3 separate regions of the Homo sapiens genome follow, and all the other regions are reported to be linked to region 2. The links are microRNA targets in miRTarBase. Many come from high-throughput screens and were not tested one by one. Region 2 holds a microRNA gene; each other region holds the end of a gene's coding sequence.
The links. Region 2 holds the annotated microRNA hsa-miR-548h-3p (CAAAAACCGCAAUUACUUUUGCA, at 3,202-3,224, opposite strand). A microRNA usually pairs through its seed, bases 2 to 8, with sites in the 3' UTR of a target mRNA and lowers its output. Matches are read on the target gene's strand: a 7mer-m8 pairs with bases 2 to 8, a 7mer-A1 pairs with bases 2 to 7 and ends in A, and an 8mer does both.

Region 1 (7,205 bases), not on the chromosome of region 2:
TAATGGTTTTTACATTTAGCATTCAGTGATATTTATGTTGGCTAAAGGTGAAAGCAAATTGAGTGTTTTGAAAACAAAGTATACTTACTTTATACTCTGAAAACTCAATTTCTTAAAGCCTGTTTTTCTTTATAAAAGTTACCAAAGAATATTATCAAGTCAATACTTGTTTACATACAATATGAACTTTCTGTTAGCCTGGCTTCCTCAGGAGGCCGAACCTGAAACAAGAGCCTCTTTCAGTTCAAGTATTTGACAGAAAAGTGAGTGATCTAGGAACAGGGTCAGCAGGCTGGGAAGGAGGATGAGCTGTTATAAAGGTAACGAGAGTTGGCATGTGGAACTTTTGAGACTGCTTTAGGAGCTGAGTAAAATATAGAACCTTGTGGGAAAGGGAGAAAGGAAGGAGAAAGGAAACATTAGGTTCTTGGCAGTATGCCCGTGGGTTTATCCATGGAGTCAATAAGAGAAGCCAGTGTTGGGGCTGGTTAGTAAGAGGTGTGTTTGTGGCTGGATGGGGGGCTCTTGCAGAATTGGTCACTCCAGAAGTGCATGGCAGTGACCCAAATTAAGTCAGCGGTCTCCAAAAAGTGTCTGATACAAAGGGCCTGCTTTTCACTTTGAATAATTAAACTTTCCCTTTTCATTCAAAGACTTAGGTCTGGGTCTAGGGCATAGTATGAGAATGTAAGTAACTATGAAAGAGGAAGTTAAACACAGCTTCCCTTCATAAACTTTTGCACCCTAACTTAATCTGTGAGTTCTTCATGAAACGTGGACCCCTCAGAATAGTTTAATAGGGTTTTCTAAGAAAAGCTACAGACAGACATAGGTATAAACATCAGTTTTTGAAACTGGTTTTTCTATAATGAATTCATTAGAGAAACTGGGGCTTTAGAGGCAATCCTTTAAAAATACATAACATTCCTGTAATTATATTTTATTTTTCACATTTAGTAAAAAGCATTACAAAGATTAAAGATGTTAATGGTAGGCCAGGCGTGGTGGCTCACACCTGTAATCCCAGCACTTTCGGAGGCTGAGGCGGGTGGATCACGAGGTCAGGAGCTCGAGACCAGCCTAACCAACATGGTGAAACTCTGTCTCTACCAAAAATACGAAAATTAGCCGGGCATGGTGGCACGCACCTGTAATCCCAGCTGAGGCAGGAGAGGCTGAGGCAGGAGAATCACTTGAACCTGGGAGGCGGAGGTTGCAGTGAGCCAAAATCGTGCCGCTGCACTCCAGCCTAGGCAACAGTGAGGCTCCGTCTCAAAAAAAAAAAAAGATGTAAATGTAGATGAGTGTGGTTCTTAAGGCCTCCTATCCCTATGAATATTCTTAACTGAACTGGCAGGTTAACCGATTGATAACAAAATTCTGTGTAGTAAGCCAATTTCTTTTTAAAAAAAATGAGAACCTTGACTTTGGACTAACGACCTCCAGATCAAATAGAAAACAAACTACTGCAATTTACCTATCTAGGGATATATTTGTTACTTGTTGCATCCTTCCAAACTAGTAGTAAAAGCATTTAAGTCCTGTATAGTTTTATAAGATACTTTTATAAATGGAGACAAGAAACCAGAAGCACAGATATAAAGTGACCATTGACATGGGAGACCTATACTTAGGCACATGCAAGGTTGGGAGCTGGAACTAACATTTTCATTAAAGCCAGAGTCACCCCAGCGAAAAGGAGTGAAATTAAAAATTCCCAGACAAAACTGTCTTGGCCTGGGATCCAGTTTCTTAAAGGCAAAAAACAAAACAACCACTGAAAATGTTACCACATTCATTTAGGTTTGAGGTCCAGAAACTCACAAACTAGGAAAACTGAAAAGTGGTTCCAGGGTGGTAACACACTTGGCTCCCCTGGCAGAAGGCAAATGGAGAGCCTCTCAAGGAAAAGACCTTTCTTGATGGCAAACAGGAAACCAGTTTGACTTAACCAGGTTTAAACAAATAGGGATTTATTTCTCAAGAAATGTGGAGAGAAGTGGCTGCTGGCAGTTGTGCAGCATTTTAATGTCAGGAGTAACATTCTTGTAGCTTGTTTTGCATTTCCCTTATATGTGTCACCTTCTGGGCATGAAATGCTTGCTCCATATATTACACCCTCAAGAAGCAGTACCAGATGATAATCTCCCTTTATTAGGAAAACGAGGTTTTCTTGAGGTATTTTCTAGAAAAACCTCAAGAGGTTTCAATTTACTGGCTAGAACTCTCTTGCAGTTAGGTCATATGGCTTAACTGCAAGAGACTAGGAAAGTATGGAAGAGGATTTTCTATGTCTTAGACCAATTATGACCAACCACGTGGGACTGGGCATTGGCAGAGGAGGTGGTAGTGGTGGTGAGTACAGGGCTGAGGATAAATGATATTTGCCACACAAAATCTCAGAATTTTCAGATACAGCCTCACTGAACATCTGCTCACAAACTGAAACACTACAAAGGAAACAATCTTCCAAGAGCAACAGTCAGCACAGTATACAGCCAAGTTTAGACCTGCATGTATTAAGTGGACAGAGTAGAAATGCTTAAAAAAATTAAGACAAAGCGGTGAAAAATTAAAGTAGAAGCTCCGGAACAACTACTGTCTGGATATTTCCGCTTCTCTAACTGGCCTTGCTTTGTCTCTTCAAGTCCTACTACTTTCAGCATGTAAAAAACTAACTTCAATCTGGAAGGCACAGAAAGCTCATCACAATCTGCCCATATCCATCATTTCCTTCCATTAATCTCTTAAATGCCCATGTTCCTTTCTGCCTCTCACCAGACATGTATTTTGCTTTAGGTAGATTATCTCACTTATCCTTTTAACAACTCAGTAAGATGGGTGCTGTTACTCTTTCCTGGGACCTAATTCCTTTATGTAGTCCTTTCTGACATTCCAACTCAGAATGATTACTTTCTCTTCTGAACCACTCACTGAGTGCTCACAGCAGACTAGGCACTGGGGTTAAGGACTTGACATACCTGTATCCAAGTATATTGATGAACATGAAGGAAATTATACAACACAGCAGTTTTGTAGTCTTCCTACTTTCTCTGTGGCATGCAGGTTCATTCCTTCAATACAGTAGGCCACTACATGCCAGACACCATGCTATATATACTGAGTGTTAAGACAGATACAAGACTGGACTTCAGAATGCTTGTAGTCTAAAATTAGGTTAACCTAAATTGCAAAAAACAGTTGTAGCATCAATACACTGCCTTTAAGACTACACTAAGTGAACACAGAAAATATGGATTATCCAGTATTATCTCAAATGTGGAGAGAAGTGGCTACAGATGCCACTATTATTATCCAATGACGATTTAAAAACTTCAATGGCTGGGCGCGGTGGCTCATGCCTGTAATCCCAGCACTTTGGGAGGCCAAGGCGGGTGGATTACCTGAGGTCCAGTTGAGACCAGCCTGGCCTACATGGTGAAACTCCGTCTCTACTAAAAATACAAAAATAGCTGGGTGTGGTGGTGGGTGCCTGTAATCCCAGCTACTCAGGAGGCTGAGGCAGAATTGCTTGAACCCAGGAGGCGGGTTGCAGTGAGTGAATATCACATCATTGCACTCCAGCCTGGGTGACAGAGCGAGACTCCATCTCAAAACAAACAAACAAAAAAAAACCCCCAAAATTTCAATGATTTATAATCACATGCAAAGTGTAAAATTCAAAGGGTATTATATATGTGTATATATAAATGTCTCCTTTTCCCGTCTATTCTTTGATCAAATTGTCCTTGTCAAAAGCAATCTGTTTCTTGAGTATTCCTTTATTTCAATATTTTGTATATTTTCACAAAAATGGTAGTATAATAAACTGTTCCAGTTTTTTGTTTTTTTAAGTATTTGAGACTTTTTCCAATTAGGACATATGAAGTAGTCTCATTCTTTTGCTAACATCTGCATTGATTTTATACTGATTTTATAAGTATTTTTCTTGTGTTAGCAATTGTAGGCCTTTCTGTTGCTATGTAAAATTTTAAGATACATATTTTAAAGATTTCATTTACATGAAAATACGTTTAATACATATTCTGTCATTAGCAGTAAGTAGAACTGTGCTCTTATATCACAAGTACTTTCTTTAAGACAATCCAGGATCAGTAAATAACAATAGCTTTTGCTTATTTTATTCAATATATTTGAAATGATCATTCACAAATTTAACCTATCCTTAAAAATAGGCATTACTTATTTTAGTATAATCCCATTTGTATACAAAACAAACCCTTTACATATTCACACTTAGGTAAGTGCACAGAAAAAAGCATGAAAGAATATACATTATTAAATTCAAACGCTGGTAACCTTTGGGAGGGTAATAAAGGGAGATCATTTTTTTATTCCATTCTGTATATTTGAATTTTTTACAACATGTATTTATGGGTTACTGAAATTATTTTTAAAAGGCATAATAGGGTCCAGTTAAACCATACTTTCTAGCCATTATTTGCATATTAATCAAGACTTCTGTTATTTCAAGTAGCTCTTAAAGTTTGTCAAACAGTTTCTAATTTCCTCCTCAATTTTGCTTGCCCCAGTCATTTATTTAGTAAACACTCTTCCTCACTCATAATTCCAGTTTAGTCAGAAGTACAACTTAAAGTGGCTCCAGGCTCCAGGTAATCCTGTTCAAAATTCAGGAACTCAAGAAATTTAGATGGGTTTTTGGAACTACAAAATGGTTTAGATAATGTGCTCTATATCCAAACTCACAAATGAATATATGTGGTACCAGGGGATACTTTGTATTGCCATCTGGGGACTTTTGCATTAATGTTGCCTTTAGGGAAGTGGTTTATAATCCTTGGCTGCCCAACAGAAAAATCTGTGGAACTTAAAAAAAATACATAGATGCTTAGGCACCATCTTTAAAGATTTCGAGTCTGTAGTTCTAAGGGAAGCAAATATTCTTTAGAAATGCTTTTTCCTAAATCTCAATCAGTGATTATATAAATATATGTGTACAAAAATGACATTACCTAGAGAATGACTGAATACAGAACCTCATGGAATGCAAAAACAAAAAAAGTTCAGAGTAAAGTTAGGGGTTTTTTGCGGGGAATGGAACTGAATTGGTTTTTGCTAAACATGTTTAAAAGCACCAAAAAAGATTAAAAACAATTTAAAAATACCTATTTTTCCAACAGTGGTGTTTTGCAGTAGATAATCTTCCTCGGAAACCATATACTGGTAATATAGTGCAAAGACTGAAAACAAACAATAAACATAATCCTGATGTTTATTTATCAAATGTCAATCAGTGGAATCTTTGACTGGCTTTTAAAATAAGGGCAGTTTCATTACACTGGCATACTTGGCAAACCAGGTAAGTACAGAAACCCTTTTCAAGATTTAAAAAATGGAGCAACACTGGTCAGCATTTGGTACCGTGAATATAATACACCTACTGAAAATCTTCCCATACATCATGAAAACTTGGAAGTAATTTGTATAGCTTGAAATGTCTTCATTTTAGAATATTATGCACAAAAGAGCCTCTTCAGGAACAGAAAAGTGGCATTTTCTGTGTTTCAACTACAATTTAGAACCCAACTGGCTTTTTATGTTATATTAAGTATATTATACTTCAAGTTCCAGAGTATGTGGGGCATAAAATCCTGATTCAAGTTTTATATGACAAAAAATTCTAGTAAATACTCCTTTTAATAAATGGCTTATCAATATTCTCAGAGTCAGTCTAATCATCCAAGAAAAAGTAGTTTCCACTCTTCTTTTGTTCTACATCCTAAAAAAGAAAACAGAAGCCACAAAAATCAGCAACACGATTCTACTATAGGTAAAAGTAGACTTTCACTCATGGTATTACTTAGCTGTGCTTAAAACAGTGCCTGTACAACCTGTTCTGCACATACCATCTGTTTCTGGATATTCCTGGGTCCACTGCTCAAAGGAAAGATAACTACCTCTGCCCCATCCCTAATGCTAGAATGACTCACTTGCACCAACTCAAGTAAAGTCCCTTTATATAAGATGCCTCACATATATAAAATTTTGCTATGTGTTATTATTTCTAGGAAAACTATTAAATTCCATTTTCATCAATGCAACTTTTATCTCCAGATTCAAAATGCAGCATACTGTCAGTTTGAGATCTGCCTACTACACAAAATATATATATATAAAGTTTTTTCCAATACTGGCCAGTAACAATCTCACCTACCTACTTGTTGAGCTGTTCTCTTATTAGGATTAAGGTATGACAATCTTAAGATGAGTAGGCATACAGAAATGATAACTCATGGTGACTGAACCATAAGTCTGTCTAAGAAAATGACAATACAAAGTGTCCTTAATGCTTCCAAAGAAATTCTTCTTTTCTACCCAATATGCTTTTCAAAACTGAGAAAACTCTTCAATTTTATGTGAGAACTTAACCATTTCTCTATCCTGGCCAAGAAGTAATATCAATCAGAAAAAAGGCATCCAGACATACTGTTAGGTGCTTAAGAATACAATGACGTGCAAGATAACTTTGCCTCTGGCATTCCAAGAGCTCATGGTTTAGCAGCAAAGCTAGGACTACAAATATGAAAATAAATGCTACAGCAGAAGTATGTATAACATACTTCTAAAGCTTTTAAGCATTAAGGATGATGGATACAGAGTGATAAAATGTAAACACTTTGAGGCACTGCAGATATTAAAAACAGAAATGATGGCCAGCATGGTGGCTCACGCCTGTAATCCCAGCACTTTGGGAGGCCAAGGCAGGTGGAACACTAGGTCAGGAGTTCAAGACTAGCACGGGCAAGATGGTGAAACCCCATCTCTATCAAAAAAATACAGAAAATTAGTCGGGTGTGGTGGTGGGCACCTGTAATCCCAGCTACTCGGGAGGCTGAGGCAGAGAATTGCTTGAACTCGGGAGGCAGAGGTTGTAGTGAGCCGAGATCACGCCACTGCACTCCAGCCTAGGTGAGAGAGTGAGACTCTGCCTCAAAAAAACAAACAACTAAAACCAAAACCAAAAAAACAACCCAGAAATGCTTTTAGAGTTCATTTACTTTCTGTTTCTGAGTGACTAAGATTTTTGCCTTTTAAGAAACAAATACTGTATTTCACAGAGGAAATCAACTGTAGGGTGCACAACTGTGAACTACAAAGACAAAAAACATTGTCAATTAAGTAGACACAATGTTTTCCTCATCACAGGAGCTTGTTTAGACTTT
Region 2 (7,205 bases):
ATTACACAATGGAAATGGACAAATGGTACAAATCAAGGCATACCTTAATTTTTGTTGATTGCCTAGACTTAAGGAAGAGGTGGAGAAAATGTTAATAATTCAGATTAAATGTAGAAGAGTTTCATGCTACATTTGAACAGCACAAAAAATTGAGGAAATATTCTTCCAGTATTTGAAAACTGTTATCCAGTTTGGCAAAGAACATCCTCTTGTTGTCGACACATGGGGAAATTCCAACACACTCCTTTATTCTCTTACTCTTGTCTTACTTGTTAACATGTATGAAAATATCAACCAACATTCATGCCAGGATGGCATATGGGGAGCCAGGTGTTACCCATTTATTATCACACAGATGTGTCAGAAACATAGCTGGGAATCAGATTAGACAGGCCTTATATATCAAAGTAAGGGTGTAAAAATTTTTAATTGTGAAATGGAAAGCTGTGAGGTTTAAAACAGAAGAATAAGATGCTCTGAATTCTGTTTCGGCCTGGTGCAGTGGCTCACGCCTGTAATCCCAGCACTTTGGGAGGCTGAGGTGGGCTGATCACGAGGTCAGGAGATCGAGACCATCCTGGCTAACACAGTGAAACCCCGTCTCTACTAAAAATACAAAAAATTAGCCTGGCATGGTGGCAGGTGCCTGTAGTCCCAGCTACTCGTGAGGCTGAGGCAGGAGAATGGCGTGAACCTGGGAGGTGGAGCTTGCAGTGAGCCAAGATTGCACCACTGCACTCCAGACTGGGCGACAGAGCGAGACTCTGTCTCAAAAAAAAAGGATCATTTCAGTAGCTGGGAACAGAATAGAGCATAGGTGAACAAAAACAGAAAAAGTGGGGCTGAGTTAGGAGAACATACGTCAGCTTCCTCTGGGTAGCTGTGGAGGTGATGAGAAGCAGTTCAACTTGAGCTGTATTTTTCAAGGAAATGTCAACAGGACTTGCTGAGGACTTAGATGTGGGTTAGAAAATAAGAAAGATAGCACAGATGACTCCAAAGTTTTTGGCCTGAGCAGCTGGAAGAATGGTGTAACTGTTCAATAATAGGAAGCCAAGTGAAGCAGAAATAGATTGGGGAAAGGATTGGAATAGAATAAAGAATTCTAGGGCAGCACAATGGCTCATGCCTGTAATCCCAGCACTTTGGGAGATTGAGGAGGGCAGATGGCTTGAGGAGTCCGAGACTAGCCTGCTCAACATGGCAAGACTCCATCTCTACTAAAAATACAATAGTTAGCCGGGCATGGTGGTGCACACCTGTAATCCCAGCTGCTGAAGTGGCTGAGGCAAGAGAATCGCGTGAGCCCGGGAAGTGGACGCTGCAGTGACCCGAGATTGCGCCACTGCACTCCAGCCTAGATGACAGAGTAAGACCCTGTATCAAAAAAAAAGAAGAAAAAAAAAAGGAGTTCTGTTTTTGATATGTTAAGTTTGAGATGTCTATTGTGTCCAAGTGGAGATGTTCAGGGTGAAATTGTATGGATTGTGTTTTTCATAGCATAGGGATTCTAGAGGACTTAATAGTAAAAGAAGCAGTAGGAAGATCTCAGAGGAGAGGATGAGACTAGAAGGATTCAGTTGGTCAGTGCAACTTATGTCTCACGTTGTGTCTGAGGATGACAAGAGGTGATGCATTGTGGGTAAAGCTGACTATATGGTTATTAAAAGAAAAAAAAAAGTCCAAGAAGTCCTAGTAAATGGAAAAATTTAGGTCTCCCTGGATGAAGTCAGCCATAGCCTGGGTTGATTGTTCTGCTGAAGAGAGCTTAGTCAGGTGGAGAGTGTGGTAAAGGGATAGCCATTACCCCCAAGGCTTCAATACAAGTGGAAAATGCAACAGCTTTAATCCTAAGATTCTTCCTAGATTCACAATATGTGTGTGCCCTGGTCCCAACCCCTCCCTACTCCCCTCATTTGCCCCCAGGCTTCGTGAAAGTGATAGCAGAATCAGCCATGCTGATTCCTCAGCCCAGTGCACTGGATGGAAGTTAATGCCCAAAACTGATTTATCTTCCTTGAGGCTGGGAAAAGGGATGAGTTGGGAAAGCGAACAACTAGAGGTGTTTATGAAGGAGGAACATCTGGGATGCCCGTGGTGGTAACGTGGAGTGCTGCAAAGAGGACTATAGAGAAGGAAGGCAAAATGCTGTTTAGAATCCACAAACGTGGAATCAGTGCATCTCATTTGCTGGCTCTTACCATAAAATGAGCATCAGTATCCCTGCCCTGAGCTTGGGTAGCTTATCAGAGAAGATCGCTGACACTTTTGGAGCCCATCTGAATAGCTCCCTCTGAAGCCATCCAACTTGACCATGATCTGGACTTCCTACTAGACCAGTATTTTGCCTTTGCCTGATCTTTCAACTTCAGCTTCTGCATTTTCTTCTAATTAGCCCTTTCTTACCCCACCAGCACTGCCAAAATGGAGACTTCCTGTCCCAGTCTCAGACCTTGTGGAATTCACACCTCCCCTTTCCATCACCACCTCCCAACCCTGCCACAATATGGACTACCTGTTGTTACGTTGAGAAGATTAAGACTACACAGGCAGTTAGTTTAGGGAACACCTTCTACAGTTGGTGAAATCTATTTTTAAGATCATGAAATGTCATACTACTGCCATATATACTAATTTCCTCCTCCTCCTTTCTCTAAAACTGTCACTCAAGATAAAAGTCAGCTGGGCCGGGCAGGGTGGCTTACGCCTATAACCCCAGGATCTGGGGAGGCCAAGGCTGGCGGATCACCTGAGGTCAGGAGTTTGAGACCAGCCTGGCCAACATGGCAAAACCCCATCTCTACTAAAAATACAAAAATTAGTCAGGCATGGTGGTGCACACCTGTAGTCCCAGCTACTCGAGAGGCTGAGGCTGGAGAATCGCTTGAACCTGGGAGGTGGAGGTTGCAGTGAGCCAAGATCACGCCATTGCACTGTAGCCTGGGCGACAAGAGTGAAACTCCATCTCAAAAAAAAAAAAGGGCAACTGGTGAATGCTGGGAATATGAATATCAGGGCTTGTGCTTGTTATTTTGGGGAATGACAGAAGACAGACCCAGGCAGTGTTTTTTCCCTGCATTCATCCTTTTTTCCTTTTTCTTTATTTCCCATTTATTTTATTTAAGTGTGATTTAGTTTGTACAACATTTATAAGAGGAATGGAAAATAGACAAGAAGTGATGATAGCAAGTATTAGGTTGGTGCAAAAGTAATTGCGGTTTTTGTCATTAATGAAACGTAAAGTAATTAAAGTAATGACAAAAACCGCGATTACTTTTGCACCAACCTAATAGCTTTGGAAATGGAACAACGAAGGATCACAAGTTTGGCTTCAAGTTTTCTGTGGTACACTTGCCACAAAAAGCAGGGGGCAGAGGAAACTTTTGGAGGCGATGGATATGTTTATCATTTTGATTGTGATGATATCATGGGTGTATATGTATACCCAAGCTCATCAAATTGTACACATGAAATACATGTGGGGTTTTTCTGTCTATCAATTTATACTTTGATAAAGCTATTAAAAAGAAAAAGGCAGAAATGAGCTCAAATTTTAAACTGTCTTTATTCTTTCATTGAACAAGCATTTATGAAGGGCCCGCCATGTGCCAGCTCTGTGCGAGATATTGATGTGACTCTGGGAAGGCAAGCATTGTCCCCAACCCTGCACATCTATCAGGGAAAGCAGAAGCAATTGCCATCACGTGCTAGGACAGGGAAGTTTGGCACCATGGAAACGTGTAGCAGGGGCAATCCTGGTGTGGGGGTGGGTCAGGATTGTAATTCCCAAATTGGAGACTGACTCACACAGCTATCAGTGACAGGCAGAACAACCTCCACAGACTTCAGCCAGAGGGGGGAATTAGCCATTTTCTTTTATATCACCGTTTTATTCACACATCAGCATCCCCTCATTCCCATCCACTTATTCCTGAAAGCAGGCCCTTTTTGAGGCTCCAAACATAGTAATTAAACAAAGGGGATTCTAGAAGGTGGACAAAGCATTAGAGACAGCTTCATTGTATATAAATGCCAAATTTTCTGCATCAGTAAGGTTGCAGCTGTGACAAGAATTAGGCTGCTTTCTAGGTCATATATTTTCTAAAGCACTAGGCAAAAAAAATATTAACACATGAGGGGAAAAGAAATAAATAGACTCAATTGTTTTAAAACCTTATGAGTAGACCATTTTTTAATAATACAATGAATACTGCTTATTGAATAAACAAAGAAATTATTTGTTAATATAAAATAGAGCCACATTCTCTGGTTAAATCGTGAATGTGTAAAAAATTAAGTTCTCAATTTAATCTGTTCTGCACAAGATTCTGAATGAAAGATTAATTGGATATAATGACACTGATATTATTTTCTGTATAATAATAATTCTATACATGTTTGGCAATTTATAGTTGTAATTCTATGAATCTGAATTTTTAAAAGTTAACTACAAATAAACAGTCTCTGTAAATGAGATATATGGGGTAGGAGACTGCTTACATGGGTATGGCTAAAGCATAAATTTGAAATAATATCTGATTCATATCAGAATTTATCAGCCTGGGCTGGATAATGTTTAGTCACAGATGAGACACAGATAAGAAAATTAACACCAGATTGGTAATTAAAAGTGCTTCCTGGGTATGAATGACACCTCTGAATGCAGCATGAAATAATTCCTTTTGTATTCTGCTCCACGTTTTCTTTCATCTTGTGTTTGGACATTAGCCACAGAGGGATTGATGTTTACCGCAAAGAGCCTGGAGTCAGAAGATCTATATTCTGGTCTCAATGCTGCTAGAAGTTAACTGTTAGATTTTTAGAAAAAATAAGTTCTAATCCTCTGTTCAGCTTGCACATCTGCAAAATGAAGATACTTTTTAAAGCAAAATTGAGAAAGAAATAGAACAAAATTATGCATGCAAAAATGCGGTGAAAATTTTTAGTTAATGCAAATATAAAATATCCAAATAGTCTATGCACAAATATATTTATATATCATAACAATGGAAACTAAATTATAATTGAAGGGATATCAAAAATAGAATTATAGTATTGAAACAAATAAAAGCCAACAAGATTGAATATGTGTGTTTGTGCACGTATGTTTTAAGTGGTGAGATACTTCTAGATATTATGTTGTTAACATATTACCAAATTGTTTAACTCATATATGCGTATAGTTTTTGGTAATATGAAACTGTGCATAGAAGGAGATGATCAGTAATTTATTTGGCTGTCTAGTACATGTTGAGTCACTTCTCCATATAAAAAATTAATAAAGAAGGCTAATAAATGGGCTCCTCACGTGAGGGCTAAAGACAAAGACAGATGCAGACGCTTTGTTCCTGAAACCTCTAGCTTGGAATATGTTATAGTCCTGAGACAAAGCCATTCACAATTAATTCCAATGGTAAATCTCAGTTGAGCCTCGGGGGTGTGAAGGGGGACTGATACAGCATAGTCGGTTTGCCATAAATATGCCTAAATCTATAAAAGATTCATCACATTAAAAGAGGTTTTTTCTGAACACTATGCTCATTTATCAGATTATTTGGAGATTATTTAGTATGATAAAATACAGAAAATACCTCACTACATTTGTAAAATCTTTTCAGAAATCAATTTCTAAGTTTTTAACAAAAATGTCATGATAAGACTTCTAGTACTATAAGATGTCATAGACCTTCTGGTATAGGCACAGCAGTCTGAACAAACACCGAAATAAGAGGGGCACCTTAAAATCTCTAGTCAAACGGACTGGTAGAAACCTTCTATGCAATCTCAGTCTACTAAGAAGTAGGTTTCTACCTAATGTAAAAAAACCAATACTGAAAATCAAGGAAAAGAAAGAAATAGGAACAAAACAAACAAACAATAAGACAAACAAACAAAACAAACAGTAACAAGATAAATCTCCAAAAACATACTTGAATGAAGTGGAGTTTTGTGATTTACCTGACAGAAAATTCTAAATAATGGCCATAAGGTTACTCATAGATGTCAAGACAGCAATCCAAGAACAAGCTGAGAACTTCAACAAAGATACAGTATAAAAAAGTATCACATGGAAATCATAGATCTGAAGAATGCTATAACTGAATTAAAAAATTCAATAGCGGGGTTCAATAACAAACTAGAACAATCAGGGGGAAAAATTGTGAACCTGAAGACAGATCACTGGAAATCATTCAGTCTGAGAAGCAAAAACAAAAAAGAATAAAAAGAGGTAATTATAGATGAAGAGACCAATGGGACACCATTAAGCAGAACAAATTATGCATTATTGGTGTGCCACAGGGAAAAGAAACAGAGAAAGGGATATAAAACATAATCAAGGAAATGACGGCAGAACACTTCCGAAGTCTCAGGAAGACATTAGAAAGCCAGATCCCGGAAACCCATAAGACATAAAAGATGACAAATCCAAAGAGACACCATGATACATCATAGTTAAATTGTCAAAAATTAAAGATTAAATGAAAGAAATCAAGGAGCTAAATGGAAAAACATACCGAGTTTAAGACTCAACATAGTAAAGATGTCAGTTCTGGCCAAATTCTCTATATGCTTAATGCAATTTCTATCAAAATCCCAGCAAAGTTTTCGTTGCGAAAGACAAGCTTACTCTAGAATTTATATGAAAAGTTTGAGACCCTACGATAGCTAAAGTAATCTTGACAAACAAGAATAAAATATAGGAATTACTCTGCTGATTATTAACATGTAACTGTATGGCTAGAGTAATCGAGACAATCAAGACACCATAGTATTGGCAAAGGGGCAGACACATAGATCAGTGGAAAAGAAAAAAAAAATCCAGGATCCAGACTCATACAGATATGCTCACCTAATTTTTGACATAGATCCAAAGCAGTTCAATGGAGAAAGGATAGCTTTTTCAACAAATGGCATTGGAACAACTGACCATCCAAAGGCAAACAACATGAACTTCAACCTAAACGTCACACATCGTACAAATATTCACTCAAAATGGATCAGGGACAAAATGTAAAATGTACAGTTTTAAAGCTCTTGGGAAAAAGTAGAAGACAGGACCTACAATTACCCAAAAAGCCTTCGACTTGACAAAAAAAGCACGATCCATAAGAGAAAAAGTTGACAAATTTTACTTAATCAAAATTTAACTTGCTGTGCAAAAGCTCAGTGAAGAGGACGAAAAGACTAGCTACATCCTAGGAGAA
Region 3 (7,205 bases), not on the chromosome of region 2:
CAGTTAATTAAGGGGATAGTTTTTTCCTCAACTTGTCAGGTTTCATAACGTACGGAAGTAATAACCAGAATGCGACTGGATCTTGGTGTATGACTTTGCCCGCTTTTTTTTAAATGAAACACTTTATCCCTAACTTCATTCTCCAGTCCACCCATTAACAACTTCTTTGATCTGTTGATAGATATCTACACCTCCATCCTCACAGCTGTATGTGTGTATGGAAGATATAATTTAACATTTGTTGCTATTATTCTTTGCTATTTGCTATTTCCATAAAGGTCCTAATTCCTGATCTCACTTACATGTGGAATCTAAAATAGCTGAAGTCATAAAAGGGGAAAGTAAAAGGGTGGCTGCCAGGGGATGGATGTGGGGAAGGGAGGGGAGATGGTGGTTGGAGGGTACAAAGTTTAGTTAGACAGGAGGAAGAAATGTTTTAGACCATTGCGCAGCATGGTAACTATCATTCATAATGTACTGTATATTTCCAAATTGCCAAGAAGGTACATTTCAAATGTTCCCTCCACAAGAAAAATGCTAAGGATGTGAGGTGATGGATATGCTAGCCAGCTTGACTTTATCATTCCTCCTGGTATACTTGTCAAAATATCACATTGTACCCCATCAATATCTATAAAATTTGTCAAGTAAAAATGAAAATAAATTTGAAAAAGATCTTAGGCCTACTTTATTCTAATGTAAAATATGATCTGTAGAAATTCTACTTTTAAAAAATATTTTATTCAATTATATCCCCTCAACTGGTTTTATTTTCATGGGAAAAGTTTTCAGTTACTGAAGGTGATAAATCTCTGAAACAAGAACTAATCCCATACCTAGGATATATTAATTAATTAAATGTCTTCACTTACTTACCAGTGGCAGAGAAATGTTCCAAAAATTTTAAAAAGCTAAAAATCTTTTCACTTTGCTCTTATAATATTTGAGAATTTTCACACAAGAGCTTGAACTCTCCAATCTAAGTAGGACAGAAATACCTGTGTCATATTAATTATGTTAGAGTTAGGTGAACATAGAGAATGGTCCCCAAAAACAATGCTGTCCACACTTTGAGTTTAAGAGTTGTTCTAGACGTATTATGGTGAAGTGGTCATGCATCACCTGTGCTTTCTTATTTGCCTCTACAGGGATGCCAGATGATATGAACTTCAGTGATGTAAAGCAAATCCATCAAACAGACACTGGCAGTACTTTAGACACAACAGGAGCAGGATGTGCAGTGGCGACTGAATCTATGACATTCACTCTGATAAGTGTGGTGATGTTACTTCCCGGGATTTGGTAACTGAACTCTTCTGTCCTGACATACCTTACTGAAGTCTCGATTTCTTCTCTCTCTGCATATGCCTGGAATAAGAGATCCTTTTTCAATGTAACAATTATATTTATGAAAAGATATGTTACACTAACTTCTCAGAAGCCAAGCTGAAATATTCATAAAGTCCCTAAAACTCAACGTTTAAATGACACACTTTAAAAATATGTCTTTTTTCAATCTAACTGAAAACCTTCTTAACTTCTAATATATTAAATCTGAAGATGTGAAGGGCACAGAAGTGACTTTGAATAAGAAGAATTTAGTGTATCTGTAATTTTATTATCAATTCCAAGCCCCTTCCTTTCTAAATTAAAAATGTTTTCATTTGAAAGTGTATTTGCCAGACAATGAAAACAGTATGCAGTATTTCTTAAAGTATTGAAATTAGAATATCATGAAATAAATCAAAACATACAATGGCAAGTAGTATGCATGCATATTCAAGAGACTCTTCCATTTTTGCAAGCTGTAGAAGGAAATGTCTGAATGTCTATAAGTTATGGGGTAGATTCTTGAGAAGCATTTCATATAATTTCACTGAAGAACCTTGATAATTTTGACCCACTGTAACTTAGCCACTGATGAACCTTAAAGCTGAGTATTTTATTAACACCTGATTTGTATTCCATTATATTCAAAATGCATCTTTGGTATTGTGCCTCTGCTCCCATCTCTCTCTTTGCCTCATAGATTTAGCTATGTTGGGAAGCACATGCTTGCTCTAGGAATATCTCCAATAAAGCTGTTAACTATTTGGTGGAAAAATTTGAAGAATATTTGTCATTTTCTTCTGGCAAAAATGCTATTTTCACCCATTTTCAAAATATTATGTACTACTTTTTAAAGCCTGATGTTGTACAATTGGCTACCTTTGCATTTCTAAGGTTCCTATGAATATCTGCAGACATGTACAGAAAAGATGATATGCAACACTTTAGCTCTTTCCTATTTGCTCATTAATGGAGCTGCAAACCAACAGTCCCTAATTTCTCAGTTGGGATAAGTTGCCTCAATAGACACTAATAGGATATGTATATGGCTATACTTGAGGAAAAGAGAAGTTAGTTTTTATTAATAAGTATCACATCCAGTCTACAGAGAGAAAATATAATTAATACAAAGTCACAGAATAGAAAAGGGAATTGCTGACCTCAAATAAAAAAAAACAAAAAAAAATTTGAAATGACTTCTGACAAAGACGTAAACAAGACACAGCCAAATGCAAACATTAATAAGGTAAAATCCGTTTCTGCTAGTCAGGAAACAATATATGATCAAACCTTGTTCTCGCTTAAGTTCTCAATTAACAAAATGATCTAAGGATGGTTAGTTTAAATCACAACATTTTTAAGCTGCCCAATCAGGTTTTACCCTCCATTCAAACATGCCTCAGAACCGTAAGTGTTATTCTACCCATCAGTTGTGGATGCCATTTTCCTAGGCTTCCATTCCACACCTAACATTCCCTGATCCATTCAGTTAATAACTCATTTGCACTCACCTTGACACACTCCACAAATTACAAACTTAACCCTATTTTGAAAATTTTTTACTTCAACCTCAGCTCTTCATTTAAATCAGTCTTGGAAAAAAGTGATACTAAGGCACTCATTTGCTGCCCTCCAGCCCAAGTCATGATTGGCTTGCTACGGCAAAATTTCAGACCCAACTTAAGAGGAATTTAATTCTAAAGACAAACAAACTGAAGAGCATGCTTTAGCAGTCTAAGATATATGGATAAAATTAATTGACAGAAGATAATTTCAGATATGGCAAGAAATGGACAAAAGCAGAGTGGTAAAGTCAATACAAGAAATGATTATTTTTTTTTAAACTAAGTTTTACATGCTCAGATGGGTGTTATCTGCAGGTGGGCACTTTGGGGACTATATAAGCAATAATGGTGTTACTAGAGCTTAAAACACTGGGGTTTTCAGAATTTCTTTAAAAGCCTAAGGCAAAATTGTTAATATTCTCAGTAAGGATATACTTATCCATTAACACTTCCCATTCTGTGACATTTCATATCTACATAGTTTCTTATGAATTGCAAAGCTCTTTCAAATGAGAGAGAGTATCTCATTTGGACTTTCTTCGCCCCCTCAAAGATAGGCTTGATTTTCAGTCAAATAAAAACAATAATGCTGATTTTTTATATGGCTCAGAATTTGCTTCTGGAGAGTTTTTCATTAATAAGGTCTAAGAAAGTTTTGAGCAATGATACAAGTGTTGGATATGTGTCTACTTTCCAAGATTATTTAATAGATTACATCAGACTGAATGTATGTATTTAAAAATATCACACACATAGTCACATTTTATGCTGGTGTAATTTTTAAAAGAGCCATATTCTTGAATCCCGGAGTTATTTTTATGAGTTTAAGTAATCATAAAACTTCGTCTGATATTTTGCATATATTGGGGAGACTAGGTTTAGAAGCAGAACTAACATTTACTTGGCCTTTCTTTGTATACGCACCATGATAAATGCCTTGATGCACAATGTCATTTAATCTCCCCAAAAACACTGACATTTCCATTTTACCAATGAGAAAACTGAGCTTATAAATATTAGGGAATTTGACAGATGTCATACAACTAATCATAACAGAGTTAGATGGTGAGTATGATACCTTTAAATAAACTGTATACCTTTCTGGTTCAAAGATACAGTTTTGGAACAACAGCGAGGAACTACAGGTTAGCACAAAAATCATTCAGAGACTACTTAAGTCTCCAAACTAGGATTTAACAAATACAGTTGGCTATAGAATAATTGTCTAATTACCAAAATGCACATTAGTGTAGAAACATAATAAAAAGGAGAAGTGTAAACATGGACTTTTTTTAGTACCATTCATTACCCTCCCATATATTCAAACCCACTCTAAACACATCAGCCCTGAAAATAAATCAGCTGCCGAGAATGAGAAAGAAAACACAACTGTTTTAACTCTAATGGGATCATGAAGTTTATTTTAGTTTCCTTTGCAACAAAAAGGTATAAAACATTTCTTTGGCTATAGGATGGCATAAAAAAATGAAAGGAAGGAGAGGAGGAAGGAAGGAAGGAAAGGAGGGAGGAGGGAGGGAAGGAGGGAGGGAAGGAAGAAGGGAAGGAAGGGAAAGGGCATGGCAGAAAATTATTTTTTAAATCTTAGATTTGCCTTTATCCTCTATTTATTCTGTGAATAAATAATGTCTGCATGGTTACAGTACATGGTACAATAAAATAATGTCTGCATGGTTATCTTCTCACTAAAAAAGGACTGAGGTTAATAAGCTCTTTCCTCCCAACACTCAGATTTTCTGAAGTGCTCAATAATGATGCTTTGAAAAGGACTAAATTCATTTATTACTAACTGTTTGCTATCATATAAAATATTGTTTCTAACATCAGAATCCTTCAAGGACAATAAAAATGATTTTTTTCTTGAATGAATATATTCAACCTAGACGTCTCTTATTCTGAATGAGAACTTTGTTGAGCAGGCTACATCACTATTGTATTTAGTTTGCAACCTTTAATGTCATTCATATACAATTACATGGGTTATGAAAATTCAGAAATAATAATTTCTAATGTTGTTAGGTATGAATGTGAACATATCAAGTTTTTCTTTAAATGCAGATTGTTGTATACAAGTCATTTTTGATTAAAATACAGATAAAACATATTTCTCAAGTCAAAAGTCTGCTTTCCTTGCCTTTAGTAAAATTACAGAGTGACTGAATTACTGTTATAATTACTTTATGACTAGAGATCTAATCAAATATAATTCTTAAGCTATCCTTTCTGCCTCCTTGCACAGAGAAAACTGAGTAATTTCATCACAATATAATTTATATTTCCATAGCAGAAAACAATAACTTATTTGGAAGAGAGTAGAGTAGGAGTGGATGTCCATGGTTACTTTTTGGAAACATCTGATTTAAGAGACTTTTGCCTTCCTGCACTTGCCAATTCTCACACTGGAATCAACTTCATGAAAATGTGTGTGAGAAGATCACGCATCTTATTTTCCCCTTAAAATTTTACTTTGACTACATTGAAGACCAGAGTGAAAGACAATATATCAGAATTTGAAAGACCATAGAATTAAGAACAGAACGGTGAACATTTAAGGATCAAAACTGGTTGGAGACAGAAGGAATGGGACTGACTGCAGTAATAAGTAAATTCTTACTTTTATGAGTTTGATACCCACCTTTAAACATGTTGGATTGGAAGGAATGAAGACTCTTAGAAAAAAAGGGAGGTCTCTGATTTTCCTGAGATTACTCAGCCAAGACCACTAGCATAACAAGAAGAAAGAAAAACGAAGAACAAGAACAAGAAGGCCCAGCTGTAAGACAAATGCTGTGAACGGTATAGTATGTTCCAGAAAGAGTGACTCCATAATTGTGATCAAAGAGTTCCAGGACCCAATTTGCAAAGTCAATGTGATTTGCTCACCCAGGGCACATTCTCACTTCTCTCCTTGACCCCCCCACCCTGCCGCTCCATCCATATACATACTCATTCCCCACATACATTTTCTGGCTACTGTCTCTATTTCCTTTCTCTTTTCTTATCTGTAAAAATTGAGATAACTGTATCTACCTCACAGTGTTACTTAGAGAACTAGATAATCCAACACCTATTAGGACCCTGCTGGCCCATGATGAGCCATAATGATTCGTGTTTGTTCCCTTCCCACAGAGCTTTCTGTTAAAGTGCACATGTTTCCAGGATGGGACAACACTAGAATATTTAGTTATGGATTCTGCCTGTCAATAAGTTTTTGATAGGGGAAGAGATCTGTGTTAGTCTGTTTTCATACTACTATAAAGAACTACCTGAGACTGGATAATTTATGAAGAAAAGAGGTTTAATTGACTCACAGTTCTGTAGGTTGTACAGTAGGCATAGCTGGGAAGGCCTCAGGAAACTTACAATCATGGTAGAAGGCAAAAGGGAAGCAGGCACAATCTTCACATGGCAGCAGGAGAGAGAGAGTGAATGGGGAAGTGCAACCCACTTTCAAACAACCTGATCTTGTGAAAACTCACTGTCAAGAGAACAGCAAGGGGAAACTCCAGCCCCATGAACAAATAACCTCCCACCAGGTCCCTTCCTAACACTGGGAATTAAAATTCAACACGATATTTCGGTGAGGACCTGGAGCCAAACCATATCCAGAGCGTAGAGAAGATGGTTGGAGAGTGAATGAGTAGGGTTCAGGAAAGGGAAAGAGAAGAGAAGCAATGGACTCTGGAATGCACAAGAAACCCATACTGCCTGCTTCATGTTTCATGTTTTGCCTGGACTCATCCTGGCTATGAGGCTTATTCACTGAAAGTTTATTTTTTTAAGTATTGGGAGTAAGTGGTCTTTCTTTCATTGAATATAAAAGGATATTAGCTCTGACCCAGTATTCAAATGTGAATTGGTGTCTACAATGACAAATTTAGAGACCTCCAAACCTTGCTTGAAGGTCTCCTTGACTGGTGTATTTAGACCTCCATCTCTGTGGGATTATTATACTGTGGGTTACCAGTACAACCCAAGCGCGGTGGGAAGAACAAATATGAGTAAACAAGAAGTGTGTTGCTCAGTATCTCACCTAAGTTACCCCCAAGTGGTTATTTCTGAGAGGCAAAATCACTTCATTAAGGTCACATTGCCAGTGATAGACAAAGCAAGCATTCTAAAATCAGCCTTCAAAATCCTTTTTTCCACTGCACCACTCAGTATCCCAGGGTTCAGAAAACTTTTGATAGGTCAATTAGGTTAGGTTAGGCTACTTGAAGGCTGTATAGGCTATTTTTAAATGTTCCCTTGTTTTATTCACTTTCTAAAATGTCTTCTCTCTAAGATATTTTA

Region 1: miRTarBase lists ABCE1 as a target of hsa-miR-548h-3p. Seed matches in the 3' UTR shown: 7mer-A1 at 5,128-5,134.
Region 3: the mRNA of GPC5 is a reported target of hsa-miR-548h-3p. The part of its 3' UTR that is shown has no 7-base or 8-base seed match.

The regions. Positions count from the first base shown.
Region 1 is chr4:145,126,082-145,133,286 of GRCh38, reverse strand. It overlaps ABCE1 (ATP binding cassette subfamily E member 1), which reads right to left. Exons shown (of 18, transcript NM_002940.3): 18 at 3,763-5,761. The coding sequence ends at 5,714. Among named protein-coding and RNA genes, the nearest start is that of ABCE1, 31 kb to the right of the region's middle. RefSeq lists an enhancer at 6,916-7,155.
Region 2 is chr8:27,045,670-27,052,874 of GRCh38, forward strand. It overlaps MIR548H4 (microRNA 548h-4), which reads right to left and starts at 3,294; the gene lies at 3,184-3,294.
Region 3 is chr13:92,865,134-92,872,338 of GRCh38, forward strand. GPC5 (glypican 5) reads left to right here. Exons shown (of 8, transcript NM_004466.6): 8 at 1,149-2,104. The coding sequence ends at 1,306. Among named protein-coding and RNA genes, the nearest start is that of GPC5-AS1, 150 kb to the left of the region's middle.